Linked DNA regions of Homo sapiens. The protein of the gene in region 3 purifies or fractionates together with the protein of the main gene of each other region. This does not show direct contact. Each region holds a gene or a part of one and is shown on either strand. Other genes may lie near its edges.

The links. Proteins that work in one complex are often made in the same cells at the same time.
Region 1: the proteins of SDC2 (region 3) and FGF2 purify together in Homo sapiens (affinity purification with mass spectrometry; 5 studies listed by BioGRID and IntAct, with this or other methods). This does not show direct contact.
Region 2: the proteins of SDC2 (region 3) and PDPK1 purify together in Homo sapiens (affinity purification with mass spectrometry; 5 studies listed by BioGRID and IntAct, with this or other methods). This does not show direct contact.

The regions. Positions count from the first base shown.
Region 1 is NC_000004.12:122,891,479-122,899,317, forward strand, and holds the end of FGF2 (fibroblast growth factor 2 isoform 18 kDa), read left to right. Parts: intron 1-732; coding exon 733-918; 3' UTR 919-1,349; coding exon of another isoform or gene 1,350-1,747; 3' UTR 1,748-6,145; coding exon of another isoform or gene 6,146-6,200; 3' UTR 6,201-6,758; downstream 6,759-7,839. Other genes in the region: NUDT6 (nucleoside diphosphate-linked moiety X motif 6), read right to left, coding at 1,350-1,747, 6,146-6,200. UniProt on the Homo sapiens protein: Acts as a ligand for FGFR1, FGFR2, FGFR3 and FGFR4. Also acts as an integrin ligand which is required for FGF2 signaling. Binds to integrin ITGAV:ITGB3.
Region 2 is NC_000016.10:2,532,131-2,541,601, forward strand, and holds the start of PDPK1 (3-phosphoinositide-dependent protein kinase 1), read left to right. Parts: upstream 1-5,890; 5' UTR 5,891-5,982; coding exon 5,983-6,006; intron 6,007-6,488; exon of another isoform or gene 6,489-6,641; intron 6,642-7,705; exon of another isoform or gene 7,706-7,920; intron 7,921-9,471. UniProt on the Homo sapiens protein: Serine/threonine kinase which acts as a master kinase, phosphorylating and activating a subgroup of the AGC family of protein kinases.
Region 3 is NC_000008.11:96,608,054-96,613,464, forward strand, and holds the end of SDC2 (syndecan-2 precursor), read left to right. Parts: intron 1-281; coding exon 282-417; intron 418-1,331; coding exon 1,332-1,495; 3' UTR 1,496-3,737; downstream 3,738-5,411. UniProt on the Homo sapiens protein: Cell surface proteoglycan which regulates dendritic arbor morphogenesis.

The DNA.
Region 1 (7,839 bases), on a different chromosome or scaffold from region 3:
CCCTCCTGAAAGAGACTGCCAGAAATCAGTATGATACTTACTTATTCCTCATTGTCTAACAGTGTTTGGAGATTGTTAATCATATGTAATATAATGTTCCAATATTATTTTTGGCATTATATACCAATAGCTATTTTCTGTACAATAAACTATTCATTATTATGCCTTAAAAAACATTAGCCACTTAAAACTTTTTGTTAAAATTTGGGGAATTAACTCTTCTTGTGAGTAAAGTATTAACAAACCTCCTTCTGTATGGAAAGATTACAATGGGTTAGCCTTCTACTGCTGCTTCTGATAAAAGTAAAAATGATCCCTGATTGGTAACCTACCTTGGGACTGGGAAGAGTGTGGATGGATCATAAATACTGCTGGGAGCTATAGCTTTGGGCTTCCCATAGCATATTTCTTCTTACTGGGTATGTCCCTCCTTGTGTTTAACACCTGACCTGTCTGTTTTGGAGCTGGAGAATTGTCTCTGAACTCCTACTGAAGAGACATACTTGATGCTGTCCTGCTGACATGCTGTGTTCCTGGCCTGCATCCTTCTTCAGAACTAGTCTGTGTCACATTTTGGCCCATTGAATCTTGTTAGTTTGATTGCCCTGCTGAACCCAACATCACTGCTGCTGGTTGAGCAGAATAGGCATTATACTATCATAAATATTTAATATGAAAAGTGTAATAATAATAATGATAATAATAACAGGTAATTCTTCCTTTATTTTTCAGAAATGTGTTACGGATGAGTGTTTCTTTTTTGAACGATTGGAATCTAATAACTACAATACTTACCGGTCAAGGAAATACACCAGTTGGTATGTGGCACTGAAACGAACTGGGCAGTATAAACTTGGATCCAAAACAGGACCTGGGCAGAAAGCTATACTTTTTCTTCCAATGTCTGCTAAGAGCTGATTTTAATGGCCACATCTAATCTCATTTCACATGAAAGAAGAAGTATATTTTAGAAATTTGTTAATGAGAGTAAAAGAAAATAAATGTGTATAGCTCAGTTTGGATAATTGGTCAAACAATTTTTTATCCAGTAGTAAAATATGTAACCATTGTCCCAGTAAAGAAAAATAACAAAAGTTGTAAAATGTATATTCTCCCTTTTATATTGCATCTGCTGTTACCCAGTGAAGCTTACCTAGAGCAATGATCTTTTTCACGCATTTGCTTTATTCGAAAAGAGGCTTTTAAAATGTGCATGTTTAGAAACAAAATTTCTTCATGGAAATCATATACATTAGAAAATCACAGTCAGATGTTTAATCAATCCAAAATGTCCACTATTTCTTATGTCATTCGTTAGTCTACATGTTTCTAAACATATAAATGTGAATTTAATCAATTCCTTTCATAGTTTTATAATTCTCTGGCAGTTCCTTATGATAGAGTTTATAAAACAGTCCTGTGTAAACTGCTGGAAGTTCTTCCACAGTCAGGTCAATTTTGTCAAACCCTTCTCTGTACCCATACAGCAGCAGCCTAGCAACTCTGCTGGTGATGGGAGTTGTATTTTCAGTCTTCGCCAGGTCATTGAGATCCATCCACTCACATCTTAAGCATTCTTCCTGGCAAAAATTTATGGTGAATGAATATGGCTTTAGGCGGCAGATGATATACATATCTGACTTCCCAAAAGCTCCAGGATTTGTGTGCTGTTGCCGAATACTCAGGACGGACCTGAATTCTGATTTTATACCAGTCTCTTCAAAAACTTCTCGAACCGCTGTGTCTCCTACGTAAAAAAAGAGATGTACAAATCAATAATAATTACACTTTTAGAAACTGTATCATCAAAGATTTTCAGTTAAAGTAGCATTATGTAAAGGCTCAAAACATTACCCTAACAAAGTAAAGTTTTCAATACAAATTCTTTGCCTTGTGGATATCAAGAAATCCCAAAATATTTTCTTACCACTGTAAATTCAAGAAGCTTTTGAAATGCTGAATATTTCTTTGGCTGCTACTTGGAGGCTTATCTACCTGTACATTTTTGGGGTCAGCTCTTTTTAACTTCTTGCTGCTCTTTTTCCCAAAAGGTAAAAATATAGATTGAAAAGTTAAAACATTTTGCATGGCTGCAGTTCCTTTGTTTCTTGAGATAAGATTCCAAAGAACTTAGATTCATTTCTTCAACACCGAAATGCTGGAGGTGTTTGATCAGTTTTCAAGAAACTTGGAATATAAATAATTTTATAATTCAACAAAGGTTTTCACATTTTATAAGGTTGATTTTTCAATTAAATGCAAATTTGTGTGGCAGGATTTTTATTGCCATTAACATATTTTTGTGGCTGCTTTTTCTACACATCCAGATGGTCCCTCTAACTGGGCTTTCTCTAATTTTGTGATGTTCTGTCATTGTCTCCCAAAGTATTTAGGAGAAGCCCTTTAAAAAGCTGCCTTCCTCTACCACTTTGCTGGAAAGCTTCACAATTGTCACAGACAAAGATTTTTGTTCCAATACTCGTTTTGCCTCTATTTTTCTTGTTTGTCAAATAGTAAATGATATTTGCCCTTGCAGTAATTCTACTGGTGAAAAACATGCAAAGAAGAGGAAGTCACAGAAACATGTCTCAATTCCCATGTGCTGTGACTGTAGACTGTCTTACCATAGACTGTCTTACCCATCCCCTGGATATGCTCTTGTTTTTTCCCTCTAATAGCTATGGAAAGATGCATAGAAAGAGTATAATGTTTTAAAACATAAGGCATTTGTCTGCCATTTTTCAATTACATGCTGACTTCCCTTACAATTGAGATTTGCCCATAGGTTAAACATGGTTAGAAACAACTGAAAGCATAAAAGAAAAATCTAGGCCGGGTGCAGTGGCTCATGCCTATATTCCCTGCACTTTGGGAGGCCAAAGCAGGAGGATCGCTTGAGCCCAGGAGTTCAAGACCAACCTGGTGAAACCCCGTCTCTACAAAAAAACACAAAAAATAGCCAGGCATGGTGGCGTGTACATGTGGTCTCAGATACTTGGGAGGCTGAGGTGGGAGGGTTGATCACTTGAGGCTGAGAGGTCAAGGTTGCAGTGAGCCATAATCGTGCCACTGCAGTCCAGCCTAGGCAACAGAGTGAGACTTTGTCTCAAAAAAAGAGAAATTTTCCTTAATAAGAAAAGTAATTTTTACTCTGATGTGCAATACATTTGTTATTAAATTTATTATTTAAGATGGTAGCACTAGTCTTAAATTGTATAAAATATCCCCTAACATGTTTAAATGTCCATTTTTATTCATTATGCTTTGAAAAATAATTATGGGGAAATACATGTTTGTTATTAAATTTATTATTAAAGATAGTAGCACTAGTCTTAAATTTGATATAACATCTCCTAACTTGTTTAAATGTCCATTTTTATTCTTTATGTTTGAAAATAAATTATGGGGATCCTATTTAGCTCTTAGTACCACTAATCAAAAGTTCGGCATGTAGCTCATGATCTATGCTGTTTCTATGTCGTGGAAGCACTGGATGGGGGTAGTGAGCAAATCTGCCCTGCTCAGCAGTCACCATAGCAGCTGACTGAAAATCAGCACTGCCTGAGTAGTTTTGATCAGTTTAACTTGAATCACTAACTGACTGAAAATTGAATGGGCAAATAAGTGCTTTTGTCTCCAGAGTATGCGGGAGACCCTTCCACCTCAAGATGGATATTTCTTCCCCAAGGATTTCAAGATGAATTGAAATTTTTAATCAAGATAGTGTGCTTTATTCTGTTGTATTTTTTATTATTTTAATATACTGTAAGCCAAACTGAAATAACATTTGCTGTTTTATAGGTTTGAAGAACATAGGAAAAACTAAGAGGTTTTGTTTTTATTTTTGCTGATGAAGAGATATGTTTAAATATGTTGTATTGTTTTGTTTAGTTACAGGACAATAATGAAATGGAGTTTATATTTGTTATTTCTATTTTGTTATATTTAATAATAGAATTAGATTGAAATAAAATATAATGGGAAATAATCTGCAGAATGTGGGTTTTCCTGGTGTTTCCCTCTGACTCTAGTGCACTGATGATCTCTGATAAGGCTCAGCTGCTTTATAGTTCTCTGGCTAATGCAGCAGATACTCTTCCTGCCAGTGGTAATACGATTTTTTAAGAAGGCAGTTTGTCAATTTTAATCTTGTGGATACCTTTATACTCTTAGGGTATTATTTTATACAAAAGCCTTGAGGATTGCATTCTATTTTCTATATGACCCTCTTGATATTTAAAAAACACTATGGATAACAATTCTTCATTTACCTAGTATTATGAAAGAATGAAGGAGTTCAAACAAATGTGTTTCCCAGTTAACTAGGGTTTACTGTTTGAGCCAATATAAATGTTTAACTGTTTGTGATGGCAGTATTCCTAAAGTACATTGCATGTTTTCCTAAATACAGAGTTTAAATAATTTCAGTAATTCTTAGATGATTCAGCTTCATCATTAAGAATATCTTTTGTTTTATGTTGAGTTAGAAATGCCTTCATATAGACATAGTCTTTCAGACCTCTACTGTCAGTTTTCATTTCTAGCTGCTTTCAGGGTTTTATGAATTTTCAGGCAAAGCTTTAATTTACACTAAGCTTAGGAAGTATGGCTAATGCCAACGGCAGTTTTTTTCTTCTTAATTCCACATGACTGAGGCATATATGATCTCTGGGTAGGTGAGTTGTTGTGACAACCACAAGCACTTTTTTTTTTTTTAAAGAAAAAAAGGTAGTGAATTTTTAATCATCTGGACTTTAAGAAGGATTCTGGAGTATACTTAGGCCTGAAATTATATATATTTGGCTTGGAAATGTGTTTTTCTTCAATTACATCTACAAGTAAGTACAGCTGAAATTCAGAGGACCCATAAGAGTTCACATGAAAAAAATCAATTTATTTGAAAAGGCAAGATGCAGGAGAGAGGAAGCCTTGCAAACCTGCAGACTGCTTTTTGCCCAATATAGATTGGGTAAGGCTGCAAAACATAAGCTTAATTAGCTCACATGCTCTGCTCTCACGTGGCACCAGTGGATAGTGTGAGAGAATTAGGCTGTAGAACAAATGGCCTTCTCTTTCAGCATTCACACCACTACAAAATCATCTTTTATATCAACAGAAGAATAAGCATAAACTAAGCAAAAGGTCAATAAGTACCTGAAACCAAGATTGGCTAGAGATATATCTTAATGCAATCCATTTTCTGATGGATTGTTACGAGTTGGCTATATAATGTATGTATGGTATTTTGATTTGTGTAAAAGTTTTAAAAATCAAGCTTTAAGTACATGGACATTTTTAAATAAAATATTTAAAGACAATTTAGAAAATTGCCTTAATATCATTGTTGGCTAAATAGAATAGGGGACATGCATATTAAGGAAAAGGTCATGGAGAAATAATATTGGTATCAAACAAATACATTGATTTGTCATGATACACATTGAATTTGATCCAATAGTTTAAGGAATAGGTAGGAAAATTTGGTTTCTATTTTTCGATTTCCTGTAAATCAGTGACATAAATAATTCTTAGCTTATTTTATATTTCCTTGTCTTAAATACTGAGCTCAGTAAGTTGTGTTAGGGGATTATTTCTCAGTTGAGACTTTCTTATATGACATTTTACTATGTTTTGACTACCTGACTATTAAAAATAAATAGTAGATACAATTTTCATAAAGTGAAGAATTATATAATCACTGCTTTATAACTGACTTTATTATATTTATTTCAAAGTTCATTTAAAGGCTACTATTCATCCTCTGTGATGGAATGGTCAGGAATTTGTTTTCTCATAGTTTAATTCCAACAACAATATTAGTCGTATCCAAAATAACCTTTAATGCTAAACTTTACTGATGTATATCCAAAGCTTCTCATTTTCAGACAGATTAATCCAGAAGCAGTCATAAACAGAAGAATAGGTGGTATGTTCCTAATGATATTATTTCTACTAATGGAATAAACTGTAATATTAGAAATTATGCTGCTAATTATATCAGCTCTGAGGTAATTTCTGAAATGTTCAGACTCAGTCGGAACAAATTGGAAAATTTAAATTTTTATTCTTAGCTATAAAGCAAGAAAGTAAACACATTAATTTCCTCAACATTTTTAAGCCAATTAAAAATATAAAAGATACACACCAATATCTTCTTCAGGCTCTGACAGGCCTCCTGGAAACTTCCACATATTTTTCAACTGCAGTATAAAGTCAGAAAATAAAGTTAACATAACTTTCACTAACACACACATATGTAGATTTCACAAAATCCACCTATAATTGGTCAAAGTGGTTGAGAATATATTTTTTAGTAATTGCATGCAAAATTTTTCTAGCTTCCATCCTTTCTCCCTCGTTTCTTCTTTTTTTGGGGGAGCTGGTAACTGATGAAATCTTTTCCCACCTTTTCTCTTCAGGAAATATAAGTGGTTTTGTTTGGTTAACGTGATACATTCTGTATGAATGAAACATTGGAGGGAAACATCTACTGAATTTCTGTAATTTAAAATATTTTGCTGCTAGTTAACTATGAACAGATAGAAGAATCTTACAGATGCTGCTATAAATAAGTAGAAAATATAAATTTCATCACTAAAATATGCTATTTTAAAATCTATTTCCTATATTGTATTTCTAATCAGATGTATTACTCTTATTATTTCTATTGTATGTGTTAATGATTTTATGTAAAAATGTAATTGCTTTTCATGAGTAGTATGAATAAAATTGATTAGTTTGTGTTTTCTTGTCTCCCATTTCTTTGTGTCTTCTTGTCTATGAATTCTTTTTTCTTTTTTTTTGTTGGGGAGGGGCAGGTGGAAAGATCTGATCTTGGAATAGGGATAAATATAGAAAAATGGATTAAAAACAATTATGAGATGACATGGACAATATTCTTATGGCTGACATGATTACTTTTCTTCCTGTTAGAGTTCTATCTATCCATCACGTGATAAAAGAAAAGAATGAGAAATTATAACATACTCATAAGGGAGCTGTACCTTTGGCTAGTACCCTATATTCTTCATTCATAAAATAAGTTATGGTCCTTTTACTGGTTTGCTTTGTGACACACTCATTTCCTGGATGAATGCTTCTTAAAAGAATGTGTCATTTCTCAACTATGCTAGGTTGGAGACCAGTGGCATGGTTCCCAGAGTTTCCATAGACTGTTGATTATGTGGGTACAGAATTCAGGCTTTCAGTGTCTGGGCTAGGCTTGACATTAATTTATAAAGGATATTATGCTTTACTTTATTAATGTAGAAATATATCTGTAAATATACCTCTATATCAATGCACTGTCTTCTAGATTCCATTTGGAAATATTCCCAGAAGGTTTATTTCTCCAGAAACTATGCAGTCTTTGTCTTGACAAGATGTTGAACTTTACCACCATAAATTCCATTTACTTTTTGAGACAGGGTCTCATTCTGCTGGCCAGCCTGGAGTGCAGTGGCACCATCAGAGCTCACTGCAGTCTTGACCTGCCTGGGCTCAGGTGATCCTCCCACCTCAGCCTCCTGAATAGTTGGGACTACAGGTGTGCACCACCACACCTAATTTTTTTTTTTTTTTTAGAGATGAGATTTCACCGTGTTGCCCAGGCTGGTCTTGAACTCCTGAGGTTCAGGCTATCCTCCCACCTGGGCTTCCCAAAGTGCTGGGGTTACAGGTGTGAGCTACCATAACCAGCCTGCAAGTTCTGTTTCTAACAAAAGAAAAGTTATAATGGAGCAGACCAATGTTTCCTAAAAACAATAAAAGTCAACTTTAAAAATCTTTGACCATAAATGATTAGAGATTGTTAATTAAATCTGGAGATGAACTTATTAG
Region 2 (9,471 bases), on a different chromosome or scaffold from region 3:
GGAAGGCACGCGCCGCGGCTGAGCAACAGGGGCGCGCGTCACCTTCTCTAGTTAACCCGCGCGGCCCCGGGCACAGAGCCCGAGGCTGCGCGGTCCCCGGCGGGCCCGCGGACCCCCCCCATCTCTGCGCCCCCCACATCTCTGCGGACCCCGCCTCGCCCCAGCCCTCCCATCCACAACCCTCACAACCTTGCATACCCCGCTACGCTCCCCACCGCGCCCTCACATTCCTGCAGACCCCGTCTCCCCACAACGCTCCCCGCCAACGCTGCGGAGCTCCGCGTCGCCCCAGCGCTCCCTGCCAAGCCCCCCACACCCCTGTAGACCCCGCCTCGCCCCAACCCTCCGAGCTGCTCCCCTTATACCCTTGCGGACCTAGTTTGTTTCGTCCCAGTCCTCCCCGTCGCGTCTCCCACATCCCTGCGGACCTCCCCGCGCCTCGCCTCTCCCTTCTGTTACGTATCACGCACAGGTGGATCCCACTACGACCCAGCTTGGCTCCTGTCCCGCACCTCCGCACCTGGCCTCTAGCCCCGCCCTCACTGTCTTGGGAAATGAAGCGGAGGGGTGGGCCGGACACTCTAGAAGCACCCTGGCTCGGAGCTTCCCTAGCTCGGAGTTGGTTTGGAGCCCAGGCTAGGGACCCAGGGTGGGCGCAGCAGGGGAGATTGGCACCAGAAGCGTGGAGGAAGGGCACCTCTTCAGCCCGGCTTTTCCGCCCCTGGAGTCTGGGACAGCTCCGGAGCGTCCGGGTACTCCCTCCCAGACTGGCCCTGTTCCTTTTATCACATTTATGTCACACACGTTTTTTCTAAATGGGTTTACACTTTTGCTATTACTTTGCAGTTCGGTTTGTGTGTGTGTGACGGAGCCTGGCTGTGTTGCGCAGGCTGGAGTGCAGTGGTGCGATCTCTGCTCACTGCAGCTTCCGCCTCCCGGGTTCAAGCGATTCTCCGCCTCAGCCCCCTTAGTAGCTGGGATTACAGGCGCACGCCACCACACCTGACTAATTTTTTTGTATTTTTGGTAGAGACAGGGTTTCACTATGTTGGCCAGGCTGGTCTTGAATTCCTGACCTCAATTGATTCGCCCGCCTAGGCCTCTGAAAGTGCTGGGATTACAGGCGTGAGCCACTGTGCCCAGCCTTTTTTTTTTTTTTTTTTTAACACGGAGTCTCATTCTGTTGCCCAGCCCGGCGCGATCCTGGCTCACTGCAACCTCAGCCTCCTGGGTTCAAGTGATTCTCCTGCCTCAGCCTTCCCAGTAGCTGGGATTACAGGCATGCACCAACACGCCCAGATTTTTTTTTTTTTTTTTTTTTTTTTTTTTTTTAGTAGAGACAGGGTTTTACCATGTTAGCCAGGCTAGTCTCGAACTCCTGACCTCACGTGATGTGCGTGCCTCGGCTTCCCAAAGTGCTGGGATTACTGGTGTGAGCCACCACGCCCAGTTTTTTTTGTTTGTTTGGTTTTTTTTGAGACAGAGTCTCACTCTGTCGTCCAGGCTGGAGTGCAGTGATGCTACCTCAGCTGACTGCAAACTCACTGAACCTCTCAGGTTCAAGTGATCCTCCTGCCTCAGCCTCCAGTTCCTGGCTAATTTTTTTAGTTTTCGTATAAACGGGGTTTCATCGTGTTGGCCAGGCTGGTCTGTAATTCCTGGCCTCAAGTAATCCACCCACCTCGGCCTCCCGAAGTGCTGGGATTACAGGCGTGAGCCACTGCGCCTTGTCTGCGCCCAGTTTTTGTTTGTTTTTTAAAGAGACGGGATCTCACTATGTTGCCCAGGCTGATCTTGAAGTCCTGGGCTAAATTTTTGTCACTGTGCCTGGCTAATTTTTGTATTTTTAGTATAAATGGGATTTCACCACATTGGCCAGGCTGGTCTCAAACTCCTGGCCTCGTGATCCACCTTCCTCGGCCTCCCGAAGGGCTGGGATTACAGGCGTGAGCCACCGCGCCTGGTCTGCGCCCAGTTTTTGTTAGTTTTTTACGGAGATGGGATCTCACTGTGTTGCCCAGGCTGGTCTTGAACCGCTGGGCTCAAATCATCCTCCTGCTTCTGCCTCCCAAAGTGCTGGGATTACAGGCTTGAACGACCATGCCTAGCCATAATTATCCAGCTATAAGGTCAGCTGATTAATTCGTCTCTCTATATAATAACATATTCACAGGTTGGGAGATTAAGATGAGAACATCTTTGGAGAGGACATTATTCTGCCTTTTAGAGAGAAGGGCCTAGGACAGGAATTCCCAGTGCTCAGGTTTAAAGGAAATATGATGTTCCCATCATCGGTACATGAACGTGCCCCTTTCTCTGCATTCCTACCAACACTGGATATTTTCCACTTTTGGGACTTTTAGCAGTTGTTGAGCCAGCCCATTTTACAGCGGGGATAATTGAGGTTTAAGGAGGGGAAATTACTTGCCTAAGATCTCATGCAACTTTCTGTTTCCTGACTCCCAGTCAAGTCTGATTCTCCCTTGGTATGGCTTATATGGGAGGATATTTACCTGGTGGCTTGGAAACCACTGAATGACTTTGTATCTTCCATCCATCCATGTATCCGCAGCCCAGCGAATGTATATTGGGAGCCTCAGACATGTGACCAGGGCCTTGTGGGCCAGAGGCAGCCAGGAGACCTTTTTTTTTTTTTTTTTTTTAAGACAGAGTCTCCCTCTGTCACCCAGGCTGGAGTGCAGTGGTGCGATCTTGGTTCACTGCAACCTCTGCCTCCCGAGTTCAAGAGATTCTTCTGCCTTAGCTTCCTGAGTAGCTGGAATTACAGGCGTCCATCACCATGCCTGGCTAATTTTTGTATTTTTAGTAGAGACGGGGTTTCACCATGTTGGCCAGGCTGGTCTCCAACTCCTGACCTCAAGTGATCCACCCACCTCACTCTCCCAAAGTGCTGGGCTTACAGGTGTGAGCCACAGCGCCTAGCCAGTGCTCTTGTCTTTTGAGAGCCCCCTTTTCTCTCACCTGATCTCCCTGCCCCCTATTTTCCCCTTTAGTCTCCTTTCCAGACGCTACTGAGTAGCTTCAGGGTCAGTCTAGAGATGCAATCCAGGTTGGGATCCTTGCTGGGAGAGCCCTTCCTTCCCTGGCTTTGTAACTCAGGGCCTTCTGGTGTGCACACCTGCAGGGTCCAGGCTGGGCCTGTGCTTCTAGCTTCTCTGTGTCTCTCCCTGAGATTGGAATCCTGGCTCTGTCCTCAACTAGCTTGAAGGGGGGCCCCCAGGAATGGCCCCTTCTGGATTTCATACCCTTGTGTAACCTTGTTTCACTTTTTAAAAGATTTTATTTAAAAAGTTTTTTTTTTGTTAGAGACAGGGTCTCACTTTGTTGCCCAGGCTGCTCTCAAACACCTAGCCTCAAGCAGTGCTCCTGCCTCAGCCTCCCAAAACACGCCCGTTCACTTTCTACCAGGGTTGTGTGTGACCAGCAGATGTGTTGGAAGTGATGGTGTGTCACTTCTGAGGTTAGGTCATTAAAGACGCAGCGGCTTCTATCTTGTGTGTGTTCTCTTTTTCTTGGGCCACTCGCTCTGGGGAAAGCCAGCTGCTGGGGCTTGAAAACACACACGCCTGGGAAGAGGCCGCACTGGTGAGGGACGGAGGCCTCCAGCCCACAGCTGTGGGAACGTGGGAATGAACCTTTTAGGAAGTGAATCTTTCGGCCCTGCTCTAGCCTTTAGATGACTCAGTCCTGGCAGCATCTTGATGGCAACTTCACAAGAGAGCCTGAGCCAGACCACCCAGCCTGGCCTCTCCTGGATTCCAGACCCGCAGGAGCCATGAGTTTCTTTGTTGTTTTACACATCAAAGTTTTGAGGCAATTTGTTACACAGCAGTATATAACTAATACACCAGCTGTAGGGCTTTGGGCACGTTCCTTAGCCTCTGCACCCCCGTTTCCTCCCTCGTGCCATGAGCATTGTAGAGGCGAGTGAGGAACACGTAGACGCAGCACAGTGCCACGCACATGAGGCAGCTTTCCAGCCCCTCCCGGGATGGTTGTGGTCATTTTCTTGCCCCTCCCTGGATGGACCGTGACCTCACAACGTCAGGCCAAGTTATTGCATTCTTGGCCTGAGGTCATCCATTGGCCATAGACAGAGGTTCTCGGCAGGAAAGGGTGAGATAAAGAGAGGGGTCAGTCTCTTTCCTCCAGCCCGGGTCGGGAGAACCGTGCTGGGCCAGGTGAGACATCCGCTGTCTGTGCGGTGTCCTGGGATGAGCCACTGGACCTGACCCATGGGGAGATTTGTCTGTGTCGCCAGAGGGCGAGGGGTTTCCTGGTCTAGCTTGCCTTGGGCTTGGCCAAGCATTCTGGCTGCCACTGGGGCCCCCAGGACAACTGAGAACTGTCCTTTCTTCTTTGACCTTCAGCTGCCCCTCTCTCCCCTGTCCCCTGGTGCCTGCTCAGATGCTTTCTTCTTGTGACCCTTGACCCTTGGCCCTTGGCCCCTGCCCCGAGGCTCCTCCACCCTGGGCTCCGTGTTCTAGAGTTCACTGTGTACTAGTTCCTCAAGCTGTTTGTCCTTCACTGCTTCCGATTTTTCTGTGCATTACTCAAGAACTGCATGGGCATGTGTCAGTATAAAAAAAAATAAAGTTGGCCGGGCGCGGTGGCTCACGCTTGTAATCCCAGCACTTTGGGAGGCAGAGGCGGGCGGATCACGAGGTCAGGAGATTGAGACCACGGTGAAACCCTGTCTCTACTAAAAATACAAAAAAATTAGCTGGGCGTGGTGGCGGGCGCCTGTAGTCCCAGCTACTCGGAGAGGCTGAGGCAGGAGAATGGAGTGAACCCGGGAGGCGGAGCTTGCAGTGAGCCGAGATCGCGCCACTGCACTCCAGCCTGGGCGACAGAGACTCTGTCTCAAAAAAAAATAAAGTTGGCCGGGCGTGGTGACTCACACCTGTAATCCCAGCACTTTGGGAGGCGGAGACAGACAGATCACTGGAGTTGGAGACCAGCCCCTGGCCAACATGGTGAAACCCTGTCTCTACAAAAAAATACAAACATTTGCCTGTGTGTGGTGGCACATGCCTGTAGTCCCAGCTACTCGGGAGGCTGAGGCAGGAGAATCGCTTCAACCCGGGAGGCGGAGGTTGCAGTGAGCAGAGATCGAGCCACTGCACTCCAGCCTGGGCAACAGAGCAAATTTCCATCTCAAAAAAACCAAAAACCCAAAACAAAAAAACACAAAAAAACATTATCGACATTAACAACTACAAGGCGCCCGGCTAATTGTATATTTTTAGTAGAGACAGGGTTTCTCCATGTTGGCAGGCTGGCCTCGAACTCCTCACCTCAAGTGATCCGCCCGCCTCGACCTCCGCCTCCCAAAGTGAGCCACCGTGCCCGGCCGTGAATGTGACTTGATAGCCCAGATTTCCTTCCGTGAACGCTTGTTAGTTGTGAAACTAGCAAAGTTGCGCCTCTGAGTTTACGCAGAGCCGGCTCCGGAATCCGAGTTCCGGGTTCGAGCACAGCTCCGCCGCTACCTCGGGCGTGACCTTGGCCGGAGCCTGGTCCCCTCTGAGCCTCAGTTTCCCGGTCTGGGATGCCGGAATGACAGCTCGCCCCCTGCCCCGCCCAGCCCCGCCCAGCCCCGCCCCGCAGGCCCTGGGATTGGTTCGCGCGAGGTCCCCCTCCCCAGGCGGGGTCGGGCCTCTCCCGCCCGCCAGGCCCCAACCCGGAAATGCAGCTGGAGCGGAGGCGGAGCCCACTAAGGCCGCGGCGGAGCGACGATGGGCGCGGCCAATGGGCGCGGGCGTCGGCTGCGGCGCGACGGAAGTCCTGCCCGGCGCCGCGCGGGGGCGGGGCGGCGCCGGGGGCGGGGGGCGGCGGGCGACGGGGCGGGCGCAGGATGAGGGCGGCCATTGCTGGGGCTCCGCTTCGGGGAGGAGGACGCTGAGGAGGCGCCGAGCCGCGCAGCGCTGCGGGGGAGGCGCCCGCGCCGACGCGGGGCCCATGGCCAGGACCACCAGCCAGCTGGTGAGCGCGCGGCGGCGGACTGGACGCGCCGGTTTGTTACCCTGCCGGGTCCGGCGGCCGCCCGGGTCCGGCGAGGCGGGGCGGCCCGGGGTCCCGAGGGCCGGGTGCCTCCTTACCTGCAGCCGGGCGGCCGGGCCGGGGATGGCGGGCGCCGGCCGAGGGCGCTGCTTGGCTGCGGCGGGGAGACCGGGCCTGGGTTGCGGCGGGCGGCGGCCTGGCCGGGGGCGCTGACAGACGCGCGGAGGGCGGGGGAGGCCGGGAGGTGTCACCCGGCCCAGCGGGGTGGAAGTGCCTGGAAAGTTTGTTTTCGGCTTGGCGCAGCCTGGAGCCGAGCCTCCAGGGTTACCTTTCGGTTCTGTCTGTAGAGGAACCGCCCTGGGCTTCCACCTGGAACGGGGTCCTTGGCGCCTCCGCCTGCGAGAGAAGCAGAAGGTGCAAGTTCTTGCTGAAAGCACCTGATGCTCCTGGGCCCCCTTTTCCAGATTCTTGATGACAGTGGTCGGGAAAACTCGCCTTTCACGGCCCGGCCAAGGGGCATTTGGGTGCTTTTGCTGCCCGTGGCTGTGCTCAGCGTTGTGGGAAGCCCCTGGGAGGCCGAATGTGCAGGATCACCGAGGGGAAAGTGAGCTTGACAGGTAGGAGGGATTTTAGGGGAAGGACCAAAACAAACCACTTGTTGGGTGAAATGTTTTGCTAAAAGTGTCGCTGGTGTTTCTATATTTTCTCTCTATCGCTAAAAGTATCCCTCGTGTTTTTATGTTTTCCATATGCTAAGTTCTACAGTCTGGGGACGACGGTTTAAAAATTTATGCCTTGTATGCGATGTGCAGTGGGTGATGGAAGAACGTCTACATGGCTTTAACATTTGATTTAAAAGGCAAATATTTTAAATGAAGGAAAACCCAAGAAATTTAATTGATCCCGTGTCTTCCAGGATGCGGCTTTTTTTTTTTTTTTTTTTTGATGGAGTCTCCCTCTCGACGCGCAGGCTGGAGTGCAGTGATGCGATCTCAGCTCACTGCAACCTCCATCTCCCGGGTTCAAGCGATTCTCCTGCCACAGCCTCCTGAGTAGCTGGGATTACAGGCGTATGCCACCATGCCCGGCTAATTTTTGTATTTTTAGTAGAGAAGGTGTTTCGCCATGTTGGCCAGGCTGGTCTGGAACTCCTGACCTCAAGTGATCTGCCCGCCTCGTCCTCCCAAAGTGCTAGGATTACAGGCGTGAGCCACCACGCCCGGCAGATGTGGCTTTTTGATAGGCGTTCTTGATCTTTTTTTTTGTGGGGCGGGGAGTGGGGGGTTGTGAGTCTGTTTGAGAACCTGAGGAAAGGTATGGGCCCTCTTCTGAGAAAAAGGCAGAGTGACGCTGAATTTTGTAACTACGTCAGGAGGCTCTTGAACTTTCTGCAGCTCACTCGTGGACTTTGTAGAGATGCGTGTTAAGGAAGAAGGTTCAGCTGAGAAAAATGTTGAAGGGATGCCTTTCGCTATTTCGACATGTGTGGCTGTACACCAGAGTGGCCCGGGTAACATAAAAACATGAATTAGGCGGATTGGCCAGGCTCAGTGGAGGCTGGGGCCGAGAGTTATGTCGAAGTTTGTGAGGTTAACCTGCACCCAGTGACAGTCATGGCGAAATTTGTGAGGTTAACTCGCACCCAGTAACGCTGTTCCAATGCAAGGTGTGTATTTGGTGTCATCCACGGGAAGAGGAAAGAGCAAATTTTCTCATGGCCTTGGCAGTTCCACATGATGGACATTTCATATCTGCAGTTTTCTTCGCATGAGATGGCTTTTTTGCACAAAAACACTGGAATCCAGTGAGCAAGAATGATAGAATGCAAGATGGATTTCCACATGAGGAAGTGTCACGAACGAGCGTTTTGCATCTGTCAGCTGGATTCCCCCATGTGTACGTATGTGAGAACATGCCGTGTTTCCTGTCTGTAATGGTAGAGGCAGCCCTGATCCTGGATTTTCACCTGAGGATGGATAGATCTTCAGGGTTCAAGTGGGTTTGCATCTGGACTTTAGGGTGGCCCTGTAGGCCCTGTGTGAGAAGCCCCCTTCCCAGTGAACTTTCCCTTGTGTGTCCGCGTGGACAGCCAACAGGGGGAGCAGTGCGAGCGTGAAGGCAGACAGTGGCCTGGCCCAGTCTGATGCTAAGTGGGCCAGAGGCAGTGAGTACCATTTCTTGATCTGACTACTCAAGACAGGCGCTTCCCTAGGTACTTTCACACCTCATTGCGAGGTAGGTGTTGTTCCCATTTTACGGGTGCAGAAGCTGAGCTGCAGAGGCGTTAGGTACCTGCCTCATAAGTGGTAGAGACTCCAGTGTCACCCTGCCCCTCACGTTCGGAGCCCCTGAGGGAGGGTCTGCCGGGCAGCTCAGCCCAGCACTCTGTAAGGAAATCTTCAGTGCCACTGCCCAGGATGTCTTCCCAGGGATTGGGCCTGAATGTCTTGACCATGCCGTGCTGGAGGTAGGAGGGGTGTCTTCATATGGAAGAACTGTACATATTTCTTTGGCAGATGGCTGAACTCTGTGACCCCGGGGCCTGTTTCAGCCTCCTGCTGTCAGAAAGCAGCTGTTTGGGAAGAGGCTGTGATTCGGCCTTGTTTGAGGGCCGATACTCTGAATGGGTGAGGCTTGAAATCCTCCCTTTGGAACAAAGAAACATGTAATGATTTTGCTGAAGGTAGAATTGGGGGACTAGGCAGAGTGGCCTCCTGCCCTCCCTAGGGTGGTTCTGTCTTTTGCAAAGGTGGCTGCATCCTTAGGGGAAGGTGAGGGGAGAAGCAGGGAGCATGGAGAGAAGTGGCTTTCGATTTTCTCTCTCCTTTTGGGGAGTTCCTCCTTATGTGGCTGGTCTGGTGCATAGTGTGATGTATTCCTGTACGCAACGTTGCCCTGACAGCCAGTCCAAGCTGAGTCTAGAGCTGGCAAGGTGAGCTCCCAGTGGTAAGAGGGAAGTGGTTTGTTCTGCTTTTCTGAGATGTGTTCTTATGAGAAGGATCCAGCAGCAGCCTGCAGAGATGTGGGGCCTGAAAAGAGGCCTTGGGCAGCTCTTCTTGACAGGTCTTGGCCCTCTAGACTGCCTTCAGCACAGTTTTGGGGAGAAACAGGGAGTGTTCCTTTTTCAGTCTATGCACTCATCCCCTGAGCCGCCTGACCCAGGGTTTAGATGCTCCAGGGCAGCTGATTGACACCGGTGGGAGACGGAGTCTGGCAAGCAGGTGATGAACTGGGAAGCGCTGCAGAAATGAGGGGGCAAGCGTGGCCAGTCCCTTCTGAGAGGATGTGTTTGGAAGAGAGTGGGCACTGGCGTGGCACTTTCCCCTTCTGAGGAAATGGACAGGATGCCACGTGGTGCTGCAGTTCTGTGTGGGGCAGGTTGTGGCTGCAGAGAAGCCCTGGGTGCAGAAACAGTCCCCCAAGCAGGTGCGAGGGCCAGGGTGCTCT
Region 3 (5,411 bases):
ATGTCCACTAAAACAACCTCACCATGTCCTTAGGATTATTATGAACTCACTAGCTCTCCGACTTGCCTGATCATGCGATGGGTGTTGTGCAAACCATGAACTACATGGGTCCATCATGACACTCACCCATTGCTATAAACATCACACAAGTGATTATTCCAGTTATTTCCTAAACTCATTCTTTGGGGGAAAAAAAAATTTTGGAATATACTCATCTATTATTTCTTCTTTCCAACACATTTCCTTAAATCAATGTAATCTTTCCCTGTTTCCCATACCAGTCACCTGAAGAAACTGATAAAGAGAAAGTTCACCTCTCTGACTCAGAAAGGAAAATGGACCCAGCCGAAGAGGATACAAATGTGTATACTGAGAAACACTCAGACAGTCTGTTTAAACGGACAGAAGTCCTAGCAGGTGAGTAGCCTGGTGGGCCTCAGGTGGGAGGGTGCCTACATAGGCCTCTGTTAGTCTAAGTGATATTCAAAAGTGCAGCAAAGCTTGCTGTCATCTTTCTGCTGAAAGCAGTCTTGTGGGTGCTTGATTCCAGAGCGAGAAGCAAGAGGCTCAGCAAACATTGTCTTTATTGTCTGCCAGCTCCCTCAACCTACCTCTTCGCCAGCCATCGGGCAGGGGATAGGAGGTAGCCTAAAAGAGGGAAAGTTAACATCTGAATTGATCCAGAACAACTGGATGTAGAGAGATGGCAGAGTGTGGAGATCCATCAGTCTTGCTCACAGGCATTCTACATTTCAAAATAAAGAGAACGAAAAGTTCTTTAGGGGAAGGCAGTTCATATAAGTACTGCCCAAAGTGTTAAGAACGTTGTTTCTATTTTAACTTAATTGGATGGAAGTGCAAATATTTTAAAGGGGAAAACTTTCAAGATTTAGGCACACTTGGTAGTCTCAAATCCAAGAATAGAAATAAATTTGCATGCTTTTTTTCATGTATACTCTTTAAAATTTTAAGTCAATTATACTATGTTCTCTGTTGAAAAAAAGCAGTTAGAAAATTAGAATATGAAATGTGAGTTCTGAAAAGACAAAAGTAGTTTTCAAGTATGGAATTAGTTAAGATCAAGGCCAGATTTTTCTTATCGAGGTTTTTGGGTGGTATTATTAACACTAACCAAAGAAATTACTGTACCTTCCTGAGGAGTTTCAGATTTGCATAGTTACCAGGTTGCTTCATTGAATCCAGCTTTTTTTTTATTGGGGTTTTCAAATTAAGCCTTTTATAAAAGTGTAAGTAGATTAGGCTTGACAATAAAGCTAATGTCTGCAACCCTTGAATCTCTTCTAAAGTAATCTTCCTTTTGGTTGTTTCAGCTGTCATTGCTGGTGGAGTTATTGGCTTTCTCTTTGCAATTTTTCTTATCCTGCTGTTGGTGTATCGCATGAGAAAGAAGGATGAAGGAAGCTATGACCTTGGAGAACGCAAACCATCCAGTGCTGCTTATCAGAAGGCACCTACTAAGGAGTTTTATGCGTAAAACTCCAACTTAGTGTCTCTATTTATGAGATCACTGAACTTTTCAAAATAAAGCTTTTGCATAGAATAATGAAGATCTTTGTTTTTTGTTTTCATTAAAGAGCCATTCTGGCACTTTAATGATAAAATCCCATTGTATTTAAAACATTTCATGTATTTCTTTAGAACAACATAAAATTAAAATTTAACATCTGCAGTGTTCTGTGAATAGCAGTGGCAAAATATTATGTTATGAAAACCCTCGATGTTCATGGAATTGGTTTAAACTTTTATGCGCAAATACAAAATGATTGTCTTTTTCCTATGACTCAAAGATGAAAGCTGTTTCATTTGTGTCAGCATGTCTCAGATTGACCTTACCAAGTTGGTCTTACTTTGTTAATTTATCTGTTGTCCCCTTCCTCTCCTCTGCCCTCCCTTCTTGTGCCCTTAAAACCAAACCCTATGCCTTTTGTAGCTGTCATGGTGCAATTTGTCTTTGGAAAATTCAGATAATGGTAATTTAGTGTATATGTGATTTTCAAATATGTAAACTTTAACTTCCACTTTGTATAAATTTTTAAGTGTCAGACTATCCATTTTACACTTGCTTTATTTTTCATTACCTGTAGCTTTGGGCAGATTTGCAACAGCAAATTAATGTGTAAAATTGGATTATTACTACAAAACCGTTTAGTCATATCTATCTAATCAGATCTTCTTTTGGGAGGATTTGATGTAAGTTACTGACAAGCCTCAGCAAACCCAAAGATGTTAACAGTATTTTAAGAAGTTGCTGCAGATTCCTTTGGCCACTGTATTTGTTAATTTCTTGCAATTTGAAGGTACGAGTAGAGGTTTAAAGAAAAATCAGTTTTTGTTCTTAAAAATGCATTTAAGTTGTAAACGTCTTTTTAAGCCTTTGAAGTGCCTCTGATTCTATGTAACTTGTTGCAGACTGGTGTTAATGAGTATATGTAACAGTTTAAAAAAAAAGTTGGTATTTTATAAGCACAGACAATTCTAATGGTAACTTTTGTAGTCTTATGAATAGACATAAATTGTAATTTGGGAACATAAAAACTACTGAATAAATCATGTGGCCTAATATTGAAAATGTCACTGTTATAAATTTTGTACATTTTTGATCAAATGTACATCTCCCCTTTGCTAACGGCCGTCTGCTCTCAAGGATGACGTGGGTTTGATTTCTAAGTGTTTCACAGTGTCTGTAAATCAAGACCAAAGAGCCTGTCGATGAGACTGTTTATTACCAGATTCACTTCTGAATTGGCCAGAGGAAATCTGAATGTATTATCCTGTGTGTGTCTAGGTAGAGATATTGGAAGGCTGCCAGGGGATTTCGAAGTTTGCAACCTTTATAGGATAACTGATGGCAATATTAAGACAGACGCCTGCTTTTGCAAATAACTTACAAGACTGTAAATTCCAAAGATCTGAATGGGGCTTTCCTGATGTTGGTATCTAAGGCTTAGGCCTATAGATTGATTTACCTTTGGAATTGTGCTCCAAATGTCTACTGAAGCTTAACCGAAGAACTAATAAATGGACTACAGTAGCTCACGTTACAGGGAAGGAGGGTAGGCAGGGAGGCTCTGTGTGTTAAAATGAGGGTCTCACTGCTTTAGGATTGAAGTGGCTGGAAAGAGTGATGCCTGGGGAAGGAGATGGAGTTATGAGGGTACTGTGGCTGGTACTTTCTGTACTAAACATTTCCTTTTTCTATTTTACCACTAATTTTGTTTTAAACTGTGAGCCGTCCAAGTCAGAAGAAGACAGCAAAAAAAGCAACTTTTCCAACATACAATTTACTTTTAATAAAGTATGAATATTTCATTTTGAGAACATTCCCTGGAATTGCCACATAATTCATTAAAAACATTTTTTTAAGCAACACTTGGAACAGTGTTTACTTTAAATCCTTAATGGCCTTAATTAATTCTCAGATTCCTGCCCCATCACTTACAGAACCAATTCACTTTAGAGTGACTAAAAGGAAACGATAGCCTAGCTTTCTAAAGCCACGCTGTGTCCCTCAATTACAGAGGGTAGGAATGGGTATACCTCTAACTGTGCAAAGCAGAGTGAAATTCAATTCATAGAATAACAACTGCTGGGAATATCCGTGCCAGGAAAAGAAAAATTTCTGGCAAATATTTTGTCACTGCTGTAAAGCAAAATATTTGTGAAAGTGCCAAAATAAAGTCTGTCATGCCAAAAGTAAATCATTGTATAGACTGACATCCAGTTTTCTTCAACTGTACACTTTCTGCTTAGTTTTTTTTTTTTAAGATGCAGTAAATAATACTATAAAAAGTGTTAGTAATGATTACTGAGTTCAGGAAAATTTTGGTAAAATGTAAATATTAAAGCCAATGTGAAAATTTCCTGTTTCCTTAACCACATGTAAACGATTTCTCTTGAGTGAATATGGCTTTGTGTTTGAGAGACTTGAGATAGTCACACTGTCCCATTTTCAGCCCGTAGGGGGAATAGGAAGCACTTGGGTTTTATTTTTGTTTTTCAGTTTTAGTTGCAGGTGCGTAGTACCTGAATTTCAGGATTAGGACCTGTTTAATAAAAGTGAACAAGATTATAAAAATTGCCATTTCTTAAGGGTTGATAGTTTCTCATCAAACGTTTACTGAATTTTTGTCCATGCACTTTTTTGCAAGTTAGACAAAATGTACTTGTTATGGATGTAGTCTGTTAGGTCTAGGAGAGTAAGCTAATTAAATAGAATATGATTACTTTCTTCAAGTGTCCCTAAAGAAACTACTGTGTCCTACTTCATAGTTCTAAGGAGCTTATTTCTTCAATATCTTAGACATTTTGAAACATCAAGGAAAGATGTTAGGTGAGCAAAAATATAAAACCTAGAAATATTGTGGGGTTAATTTTATAAGTGTGATCTTTATAGCATTACTATAATTTCATAAGGGGGTGGTAGAGAAAAAAATATTTTTAAACATACTTGGTAGTACCAAAAAAGGCAACAACTTTGAGCTACACTATCTCTAATGTGAACTTCTAAATTCTAAGCCCACACCAGACATCGGTGAGACCCTAAGAGGTTTCCAATTAAAATTAAGCCAGATGATAAATGGAGTAATCTGAAGTGAGTGATCACTAAGGTTTTTTTTGGTTCTAATATTTTATGACAATTGTGAAATTTGAGACTTGGCCATTTCTGGGGAATTACATTAAGTCAGCACAAAAAACTTTAAAAGGGTAAAACCACATCTTTCAGTGATAAAAACAGTTACCAAAATCACTTCTGTCCCACTCTGTCTCCAAACTCTGGGTGACTTCACTCTTACAGTTTATGGTTGTAAAGTTTCATTTATTTTTGTTTATCTGCTGTATATGGTCTTTAGCAGGGCCTTTTCTGACCATGGAATCGTGGCAACTCTGAGAGCAACTTGGTTTCCTGCGAATTAGCTGGAAGGGTGTAACCCAAGCCGTCAATCCAACCCGCAAATAGCAGAGTGAAATGTTAGGCTTTGGTGCTTCAGAGATGCTGAGTGCAAGATGCATTTATTCCAGTTTTGTTGGCAAAATAGCATTCAAAAAACAAATGCTTGTATGTGCAATCCATCAGAAGTTCAGTCAAATATTTGCCTGACTATGCACTGGAAACTTAAAGAAGCAGAAGGTATGGCGGTGAACTACACAGACAAGGACCCTGCTCACGTGGAGCTTTCATGAACTTGGTGTGGGTTGCAGAGTGGAAATAAAATCAATAAATGAAAGTGACAAATGGAAATTATCAGTTGGTAATTTCCACAATGGACACAATACAATATAAGCTAACGTGTTGGGACTGAAGGGCTGTAACAGTCCAGAGAGGCTAGGTATGCTATGGTAACAATCTGAAAGTCTCAGCAAATTAAAACAGCAAAGATTTCTTTCTTGCT